Regions from separate parts of the Homo sapiens genome. Here region 2 is linked to region 1. Evidence: fine-mapped expression QTL. A gene starts in region 1. The other region holds a variant in brackets. All regions are shown on one strand. Distances are between the middles of the regions.

What was found. PIP is the estimated chance that this variant, and not a neighbour inherited with it, causes the effect.
Region 2: its variant is fine-mapped to the expression of STYK1 in nasal epithelium (TOPMed, PIP above 0.99). The same link has a PIP of 0.9 or more in prefrontal cortex and unexposed skin.

What each region holds. Positions count from the first base shown.
Region 1 is chr12:10,671,980-10,677,366 of GRCh38, reverse strand. STYK1 (serine/threonine/tyrosine kinase 1) reads left to right here and starts at 3,315. Exons shown (of 11, transcript NM_018423.3): 1 at 3,315-3,401.
Region 2 is chr12:10,626,208-10,631,594 of GRCh38, reverse strand. STYK1 (serine/threonine/tyrosine kinase 1) reads left to right here. Exons shown (of 11, transcript NM_018423.3): 5 at 287-550; 6 at 1,921-2,102; 7 at 3,871-3,954. Among named protein-coding and RNA genes, the nearest start is that of MAGOHB, 15 kb to the right of the region's middle. The variant C/T (reference allele first, on the strand shown) is at 2,078.

The sequences.
Region 1 (5,387 bases):
GAGGACTCAACCAGCCACTGTTGGCTCTGAAGACGGGGGGATCAAAAAGGCTATCAACCAAAGAATATGGGAGACCTTTATAAGCTGGGAAAGGCAAGAAAACAAATTCTTCCCAGGAACCTCTAGAAAAGAATACAGGCCTGCTAATACCTTGATTTTAATCCACATAGAATTTTGTTGACTTCTGACTTACAGAACTGTAAAATAAAACATTTATGTTGTTTAGACCACTAAGTGTGTGGTAATGTGTTATGTTAGCAATGGAAAACTAATATATAAGGTAAAAAGAAACAACATATACATGGAAGCTTACCAATGATCAATATTCTCTAGGGTATACCAACCAGGGTTAAACATGAGGTCATATGAATAGTAATTTCCCATACTCTGTCGCCGCCTTTAGTTGGTTGCAGAACCTCTGTTGTTTCTTAAAAGATCTTTTCCCCAACTGTCCCTGAAGATCCTCAAGATAGTAGAGGACCTCATAAATTTTCACAATCCCAAACCCTAGCGGCTACATAGAATCCACTCTTTTCCTTGTCTTAGATTTCTTCTGGTGATGTCTATTGTTCTCTAAATGCCTGGGAACTCCATTTACATGCCAGGCATTGCTGCAGCAGTGACTCTACTGCTGACTTTGTTTATAATTTTCATCAGAGTGACTCTGATCCTCTGTGCCAGTGCAAGCCTTTCAGGTAAGCCTCAGGCCCATGTGGAGCTATCTCCTACTGGTAGCCACTGCTTGCCCTTTTGTGAAAGTTGAACTGCATTTCCAGATAAAGTTGGAAGAATTCACCTGCCCCGCTTTTGTGTTATATTCCCTTGAAAACAGTTCCAAAGCAAAGCTACCTTGTGTACACAAGGTCTCATACGGTTTTGTTGTTGCTGTTGTATTTTTCTGTGAAATAACTCTACCAGTTGTACTTGAGAGTCCCCTCTCACTAGGACTCTGTTATTGCATACGGGCTTGGCCAAAGGACATTGAGATGCAGACCCAGCGCTGAACCCCAAGCTATTCTTGTTAGTGGAAAATACCTTTGTGCTTTGATTTTCTTTTTTCTTATAATGAGTGACTTTCCAGGAATTCCTCCATGCCTTCCGTAAATAGATTCCACCCCACTAAACCAGTAGATTCCTTCCTCACAACTGCAGAATCATACAAGAGGGAATATACTAAGTAACACATGGATGGATGGCTTTAACAGTTTAGAGGAGCGCAGGATCTGGCAGTTAGGATTCATGTAGGCTAAACTGGAGAAGGAAGAGATCTCCAGTGTATATTTCAGTGTGACTTCCCACTACCGTTCAGTACTTAATCTGGACAGAGAGATAATGGGCATTCAACAAATTCCTATGGAATTAATAATGAGGCAGAAATAACGATCTGGTAGAAACACTGGGGCCAAAGCATTGTTGACAATGAGTTGGAGGCTTATAAATTTGAGATGGAGGTAATAATTGAAATTACAAGGGAATGAAAACTTGAAGAAAAAAGAGAAATAATGGATATTCTAACCATCTTATTAATGAGTATAATGTGTGGGACTAGCTATACATATATAACTCCTGGTGAATGTCTGCTGTGTAACTCAGACTATTTGGTACTTAGTTGTTTCTGTGTGTGGGCATTATCATTTCCAGTGTTTTCTCTAACTCAAAATGTTTTTAATGTATAATTTATGTGATTTGCTCAAAAAAATTGGAGAGAAAAATTTTGCCTCCCCTTTCTGGATTGTATTTTGGTTTCTTTTTTAACTTCTATTTCTATAATAGTAACTAGATTTTAGACAAAATTCTGTGCATCAGAATGAGTATCTAGCAATACATTGCAGAAATTTTAAAAATGAGTAAACCACTTTATCTGTCATGGAGGAGCATGCTTGGGGAGGTAGAGTAGAAAATTACATAATATGAAGTTCCAATCAGTTCATTTGGATTTGATGTATCACTTATGACATAAAGAATCTAAAGAACAACTAACTGATGAGATGTCTTCCTTTCCCCTTTTGAGGTAAAATTCACATAACATAAAATCAACCATTAGCCATTTAAAAATGAACAGTTCAGTGGCATTAAGTACAATTCATCCTGTTTTTAAAAAGCCCTGAAGGAAGTGAAAATGCCAATAGAGAAAGCTCTAGAGAACTGACATACCTCAATCTCTAAATATGCCACATTACATTGACTCAAGTTCTTTTTGCTCTAATGACTGTCAGTTTGTGTTTGGTATGCGTTCAATGCTGAATAAATTGGTCACATATTCAAGTTACCTATGACTCTTATTTCTTTAATTGAATTTGTATTAGGTGTTAATATCTAACAGAATTCCTTCAGCTATCTATTGTCTTAAGTATTTTCTATTATTTTAGTTTCCATGTGGACGGGTAACATAACTACCTTGTTCACTGTTTCCCCAGAGGAGAACCCAGGACATAATGGGATATATGTGTGTGTGTGTGTGTGTGTGTGTGTGTGCGCGCGCGCGCGCGCGCGGGCTCTAAATGAATGATCTATTACGTAATCTTGGGGTTTTAATTCTCATTAATTCCTTATAGGTTCCCCCACGTCTCCGCAGTGGTCAGTACTTTTTTTTTTCTTTTTTTTTTTTTTTTTTCTGAGACGGAGTCTTGCTCTGTCGCCCAAGCTGCAATGCAGTGGCACAATCTCGGCTCTATGCGATCTCTGCCTCCTGGGTTCAAGAGATTCTCCTGCTTCAGCCTCCTGAGTAGCTGGGATTATAGGCGCCCGCCATCACGCCTAATTTTTGTATTTTTAGTAGAGACGGGGTTTCGCCACGTTGGCCAGGCTGGTCTCGAACTGCTGACCTCAGGTGATCCACCCGCCTTGGCCTCTCAAAGTTCTGGGATTACAGGCGTAAGCCACCACTCCCGTCCCTTCAGTATTATCTTGTAACACCCCGGCAAAGCCTTCAGGTGGAGAATGTTCCTGGCGCGGAATAATCCACCTGAATGTGAATCCTGACCATTTTTAGGCGCCAATGGAGGCCGCTGCTACGGGGCCGGCCGTGAGGTGGCGCTGTTGCCCTGTATCGTGACTCCGTTTTCACCTGGACTGGAGTCACCGTGATACCTGACATCTAGCAATCACTAGAGTAGGAAATGAGTATAGATCAGCAACAAGTCCAGCCTTTACAGTTGCAGCAGAGGTTTCCTGTGGCTCGAGTGTGGCGAGTCCCGGAAACCTCGGAGCCCGCAGACTTCCCTTCGCGGGAGCCCGCCCGAACTCCATCCTTTGCCGGCAGCCACGCCCCGCAGTGGGAAGGAGGGACTGAAAAGCATTTCCTTGAGGCTGGCACACCTTGCCCTACCCAACCCTGTCATTATTTCCCCTCCGACTGGGCCGGTGCCATCGGAAACCGGAGTGACCAGAGGAGGGACACGGTAGTGAACGGGGTATGGGGGGCGGGCGCGGCGGGGAGGGTAAAGAAGGTGGGAAGGGAATGGCAGCGAGGCAGCTGGGGGAGGACTTTGCAGTTGGGGAGGGAGAAAAAGGGAAGAGGCTGGGAGCGGAACGGGTGTTTATGTGAACAAACAGAAATCACCAAGTGAATTAACCTGTGTTTCTTCGGAACCAGCATCTTGTGGGGTTTGGCTTCTGTGTTTCTATATGATAAGGGAGTAAACCTGACTCAGCAGATTTGGTGCAGAGAGAAACATGAGAAAACCCAGGAATGGGGGACCTCTGTTTATTCCTGGAGAGGGGGCCATCAGGAGAGGGGGAAGGGAAAGAATGAGGTTACAGGAATTACTTGTCAGAGGACTGCATAGCCTTTCAGACCATGGAATCGTTGCTTTCAGCTTCGGCTTCCTCATCTGCAAAGCATAAATACGGTAATTACTTTCCAGGGTTGTTGCGATATTTAAATGAGATATCAATAACCATGCTTTAAAAGTGTACAGCCTGATGTGCTATCCCTTGTTGACTGAATCTCTGTTTTCTTTCCTTCTTTTTATTTGGGGTGGGGAGTGGGGGAGGGAGTCTTGCTCTGTCACTCAGGCTGGAGTGCAATGGCGCGATCTCGGTTCACTGCAACCTCCGCCTCCCAGGTTCAAGCGATTCTCCTGCCTCAGCCTCCCAAGTAGCTGGGATTACAGGCTCCCACCACCACGGCCGGCTATTTATTTTTTTGTATTTTTAGTAGAGACGGGGTTTCACCATTTTAGCCTCTGTTTTCTTTTCAATGTCTTTTTTCCTCTTTCATTTTTCTCTATCAACCCTTCATCCCCCCTTTCTTTCTTTCATTTATGCGATTGTTGCTTCCTTCTGTAATGGGTCCTCTCCACATTGGAGTTTCTTATACCTATGAGACCACACTTCCTTCCCACTCGGTGGGAAGTAGTGGCAATAAAGGAGTCGAGTTACTGTAATGTGCAGCACAGCTCAACTGAAATACACCTGGAAACAGAACTCTGTGCTGTCTACCTGGTTTTTCCCCCTCAATGCACCGGAATCTCCACTGACAGCTAGCTAGGGGGCAGCTAGGTCTTTCAATGAGACATCATGAAGTATTTGCTTCAATGAAAATCATATACTTTTTCGTTCAGTGCCTCCATTACTGTGTGAGTTTGCTAGGGCTGCTGTAACAAGGTACCACAAACTGCATGGCTTTTGGCACCAGGCACCAGGGACTGATTTTGTGGAAGACAATTTTTTTCACAGATGCCGATGAGGTTGGCGGGAGATGGTTTCAGAATGAAACTGTTCCACCTTACGTCATCAGGCATTAGAGTCTCATAAGGAGTTCGCAACCTATATCCCTCACATGAGCAGTTCACAATAGGGTTCACGCTCCTATGACAATCTAATGCTAGTGGGCACGGTGGCTCACACCTGTAATCACACCACTTTAGGAGGAGTTGGTGGGTGGATCGCCCTGAGTTCAGGAGTTTGAGACCAGCCTGGGCAACTTGGCGAAACCCATCTCTACCAAAAATACAAGAGGAAGAAAAAGAAAGAAAATCTAATGTCGTGGCTTATCTGACAGGAGGAGGAGCTCAGGAGGCAATGACAGCGATGGGGAGTGGCTGTAAATGCAGATGAAGCTTTGCTGGCTCACCTGCCTCTGATTTCCTGCTGTGCACCCCGTACCTGTCGGCGCCCCGGGTGTTGGTGACCTCTGGCTTAAACAACGAAATGATTTTCTCACAGTTCAGTAGGCTGGCTATCCAAAACTAACATGTTATGAAGCCTGCATCTATTCCAGGCCTCTTTCTTTGGCTTGTAGATGGCTGTCTTGATGTTTATATGGTGTTCTCCCTGTATATATGTCTCTGAATTTCCCCTTTTTATAAGGACACTAGTCTTATTGGATTAGGGTCCATCCTAATTACCTCATTTTAATTGATTATCTCTGCACTATCATCTCC
Region 2 (5,387 bases), 46 kb after region 1:
CATGGGAAGTACTCAATTGTAACCCAGAGGAAGGAAGGCAGAAAGGAAGTGTCATGACCGATTTCCTGGGGTCCTTCTTGAGTTGTCCTAAGAACTAATGGGGATTATTATAAAGGTTCTACAAACTTGACATTGATGCTGGTTTATAGAGAAGCATCAGAAGACAACTCCCCATTGGCCAAAGAGAAAACTGCTGAAGGAACCTCCTTGCCAATTTGTTTCAGGGTCTGCTTTCCGGGATCCCCAGGGCGGGGAAAAACTGGTTGACATCATCTCTCTGTTCTAGGCATTGCCCCTGTTCCTCCACCTAGGGACCTAAGCTGGGAAGCAGGACATGGAGGAAATGTGGCTTTGCCACTTAAGGAGACATCCGTGGAAAACTTTCTGGGAGCTACCACACCTGCCCTGGCTAAGCTGCAGGTGCCGCGGGAGCAACTCTCTGAAGTTCTGGAGCAGATTTGCAGTGGTAGCTGTGGGCCCATCTTTCGAGCCAATATGAACACTGGGGACCCTTCTAAGCCCAAGAGTGTTATTCTCAAGGCTTTAAAAGGTAAAACAAGAAGTGTTTGACTCCCCCTTCCCCTAACAGTAAATATTAACAGGCTTTGCGAACATTGAGATGTTAACTAACAGATAGTTGTGATCATAACTGTGTACAGAAGAAGGTAATAGAGTGGAAACTTGAGGCAGAAATGTTTTTCTTGGTGTCTTTTTTTTTAATTACACAAATTGTTTATTTGTGAATCCTTACCCAATCTCCAAATAATAACTAAAATGACTACTACAAATAAGCATAATGTTATGATGAGTAAGATGTTAGCTGTGGGTTTTTACACAGTCTTTATTGTGTTGAGGTACATTCCTTCTGTACTTTGTGTAGTGTTTTTATCATGAAAGGATATTGGATTTTATCAAATGCCTTTTCTGCATTGATTGAAATGATCATATGATGTTTATCCTTTATTCTGTTAATGCGGTATGTCACAGAATTGATTTGCATATGTTAAAACATCTTTGCATCCTAGATTCCCTAGCTCTTCTTTGCATCCTAGGTTCCCTAGCTCATCTTTGCCTATTGAGGCTGTTAAAACAGATTTTTTCACAATGGATGTTACTTGTACTAGGATTCTGAGGTTGTTTCCTCATTTTACTTTATTCTTTGATACCCCTTCCTGATATTATATTTCTTTTTTCTTTTTTTTTTTTTTTGAGACAGAGTGTTGCTCTTGTCACCAGGCTAGAGTGCAATGGTGCCATCTGGGCTCCCTGCAACCTCCGCCTCCCAGGTTTAAGTGATTCTCCTGCCTCAGCCTCCCAAGTAGCTGGGATTACAGCCGTGTGCCACTATGGCCAGCTAATTTTTGTATTATTAGTAGAAATGGGGTTTCACCATATTGGCCAGGCCAGTCTCGAACTCCTGACCTCAGGTGATCCACCAGCCTCAACCTCCCAAAGTGCTGGGATTACAGGTGTGAGCCATCATGCCCAGCTTACATTATATTTCTCTCTCTCTCTCTCTCTCTCTCTCTCTCTCTCTCTCTCTCTCTCTCTCTCTCTCTCTCCTCTTCATGATATGGGCCAGTAATGGTGGATACATAGAACAAGGATAAGACAAGCAAGGATATTAATCCAAAGGACTAGACAGTGATAACTTTTTAATGCAAACAGACTATCTCTCTATTTAGGCAGATGAAAGCCTATCCAGTTCTAATAATTATGATTCTGTGTTACCTTTGATAAAAGATCAGTGACATTAAGCATCATCTTCATCTAATTAGTCCCCTTTGTGTTTATTTTTGCCTTCATTCACTCCCATGTGGGGCCTTGAGAATTAACATCTTAAGTTGCCTCCTGCTCCCTGCCTCCCACTCATCGAGGATGCTCTGACTGCTCACTGCCTGGATCTTTCGTCCTCTACAGAACCAGCTGGGCTCCATGAGGTACAAGATTTCTTAGGGCGAATCCAATTCCATCAATACCTGGGGAAACACAAAAACCTGGTGCAGCTGGAAGGCTGCTGCACTGAAAAGCTGCCACTCTATATGGTGTTGGAGGATGTGGCCCAGGGGGACCTGCT[C/T]AGCTTTCTCTGGACCTGTCGGCGGGTGAGCAGTAGGGCAGAGGTATTAGGAGGTTAAGGCTTGACCTTGTTGACTAGCTTTTTACATGTCAGTTAGTGTGACAAATGACAAAATGCAGAGACACTATAATAGCATGACAGAATAAGGGAGTATGACCATATAATAGAACTTTTTGTAATTATAGAAATATTCTATAACTGCTCCATCCAGTATGATAAGCCACTAATCACAGATGGCTTCTAGACACTTGAAGTGTGGCTGATGTGATGGAGAAACTAAATTTTAAATTTTATTTAATTTTAAGTAATATAAGTTTAAATAGCCACAGGTGGCTAATGAGCAGAGAGTGGACAGTACAAGTTTAGAGCATGGACTTTAGGCTTCACCTCCTACTAGTTATGTGACTGTGAGCAAGTCACCTTTCTGATCCTGAGTTTTCTGAATCTGTAAAATGGGAGTAATAATTATTACAAAAAATACAAGAAATTATGTATGTGAAAACATGGCCATGGTTGGTACAGAGTAAGCACTCAAAATGGTAGCTGTTATAAAGATAATTATATAACAATTATCTTTATATTGTTTATATATAACAATTATCTTTATATGAGTATTTTTGGTAATGATTATAATTTTGTTGCAGTTATTAAGTGTGTTTTCCATTCTGTAACATCACTATAATATGGTGGGCAAACTCAGGGAGAAATTTAGCTTGTAAAGCTTTTGTAGCTCAAACTCACGTTTTTTAAAATTAAAGCATTCAGAAATTTTTAGCCTCAAATGGATGTCCTTTTCCTTAAAATTTCCCTTGTTCTATATTCCTCTTTCAGAAGTGCTACCTGTTTCCCTAGTTTCTCACTTGCTAGTGAGCAAGTTCAATATTCTTTGAGCCTCCTTCATATGCTGATTATTGTACAACTGAATGTGTATGAGAAAGGGACCCTGTTATTGTCTTCCATCCTGTATTGTCAATAGGACGATTGCAAGTATTTAGGCATTTTAAACTTTTTAAAGAGGTCACTCATCTAAAACTTGTTTTGTCCTCTAACTGCACTAGCTTCTTTCCATTTTTAAAAAATACCACGCATCTCTATTTCAGATTATCTTTATATGTTTTTCTTGTTCCACCAAACTTCTCTCTTCTCTTCTTTTCATAGTTAATGTCCACTCATCCTTCAGATCTCATCAATTTCCCTGTCCCTGCAACTCAATCAACTCTCTTCTGCCCACCATCATATGCTCTCTTAGCACTTTGTACATTTCCTTTATGGCACTTACAGATATGTAACCATTGATTTATGTATGATTATTTGATTCTGATTCACATGTGCCTGTCACCCAATAAGCTCCAGAAGGCAGCAGCCATGCTATTTTACTCATGCTTGTATTCCAAGTTCCTAACATGGAATAAGGGACATTTCAGGCATTCAATAAAGATGCATTCAGTTTATGTGCTAAATTAATCATGAACACATGTGTGCTCACATGTGCATACACACACAAGCACACACACAGAGCCCTAGAAAAATTGCTGCTTTATTCAGTGGATAGTCTTATTTATACTTGTCTTACCTGCTATTCATCTATGTCTGTCATTGTTTTTCCAGTCCAATGGATCATTTTATGTCTCTGCCTATCTGAAAATCTCCCACAGCCTCACTTTGAACACTAGTCCTTATATTTTTCAAAGCTTTGATAACTGCATTTCAGAGTATCTCTGCCCAACTTTATTTCTTTTCCAAATCTGTGAGTGCTATTTTGATATAATGGCTTTTTTTCCCTGTCTCTTTAGGATGTGATGACTATGGATGGTCTTCTCTATGATCTCACAGAAAAACAAGTATATCACATCGGAAAGCAGGTCCTTTTGGCGCTGGTAAGATGAGGCAACATGACAACTGATGGTGTGACGTTTCCTTGTTAGCCTTGTTTTTGATGCCATATTTCTCATATTAATATTCTCAAGTGGTGTGTATGTTTTAAAGAAAATTAGATAGAAGTTAGGGGGCAGAAACTCAAGCATGGATAAATTGTTTTTAGTCCCTTCCTTAGGGATTTATCTAGATAATTTACCACACTATTGGTAATTTCAGGGAGAAAGTAGTCAACTTAGGGTTTATACAAGGAACAGGAAGGATTTTTCAGATTTTTCAGGGCCAAGAGGTATACACCCATTTACTTGATAATTTTACATCCCCATTTGTACTAATAATAGAATTAAAAGAGACAGATAGGGAAGCAAGTAGGGAGAAGATATGGAAAGAGAAACTGAATGGGTGAAAGGCGACAGAACCAGAAGGAAGTATGCAATTTTATACCTGAGAAACAAGAAAACTAGTTCAGAACATGTTTGGTTGGAGACTTGCTTTGATACTGAATGTGACAGGGAGTACATATAATTATAAAAGATTAAGGAACAAGTGGAAAAGGATGAATGAGAAGAGCACAGTTGGATAATTCCTTTATTTTAAAACAACTTAAATATTTGTTTATTTATTTATTTATTTTTTGAGATGGAGTCTTGCTCAGTTGCCCAGGCTGGAGTGCAGTGGCACGATCTCGGCTCACTGGAAGCTCCGCCTCCCAGGTTCACGCCATTCTCCTGCCTTAGCCTCCCGAGTAGCTGGGACCACAGGCGCCCACCACCACGCCCGGCTAATTTTTTTGTATTTTTAGTAGAGACGGGGTTTCACTGTGTTAGCCAGGATGGTCTCGATCTCCCGACCTCGTGATCCGCGCGCCTCGGCCTCCCAAAGTGCTGGGATTACAGGCATGAGCCACCGTGCCCGGCCTAAAACAACTTAAATAACGAGATAAGAGAAAGAACTCAGGGTTTAAGATAAAAAATTTACCTTTACCAGAATTACCCAGGAAGTTTATATGTCTATTTCTATGAAATTATTTAAATGGTTGTGTTTAAAATTAACATTTGCTATGGAAAATCGGGGTTCTGTGAAGCTACTGTTTTAAGTATTTGATATATCTTGCTACTTTGAGGTGTGAAATATAGGGATGTAAGTGGAATCAGGAAAAGGTTAGAAAAAAAGGATTAAGGTGGGTAAAGAGTAATAGTTATGGTTGAAGCTCCCATGGGACAAGGGAGAGTACACATCATATACGTGAATATTGTCTATGGTGTTTGAATGGCCTCGTTGATATGTTCCCTTGATAAAGAGTGTCAGGATACAGCCTACCCTGTATTCAGAACCGCAATTGCAGAGGCGCCGTCCAGGGATGAATTGGTCAAATTGGTGCATTCATCAGGACCCTATGCTACCTGTTACAAGGCAATATCATGCTATTTTTTTC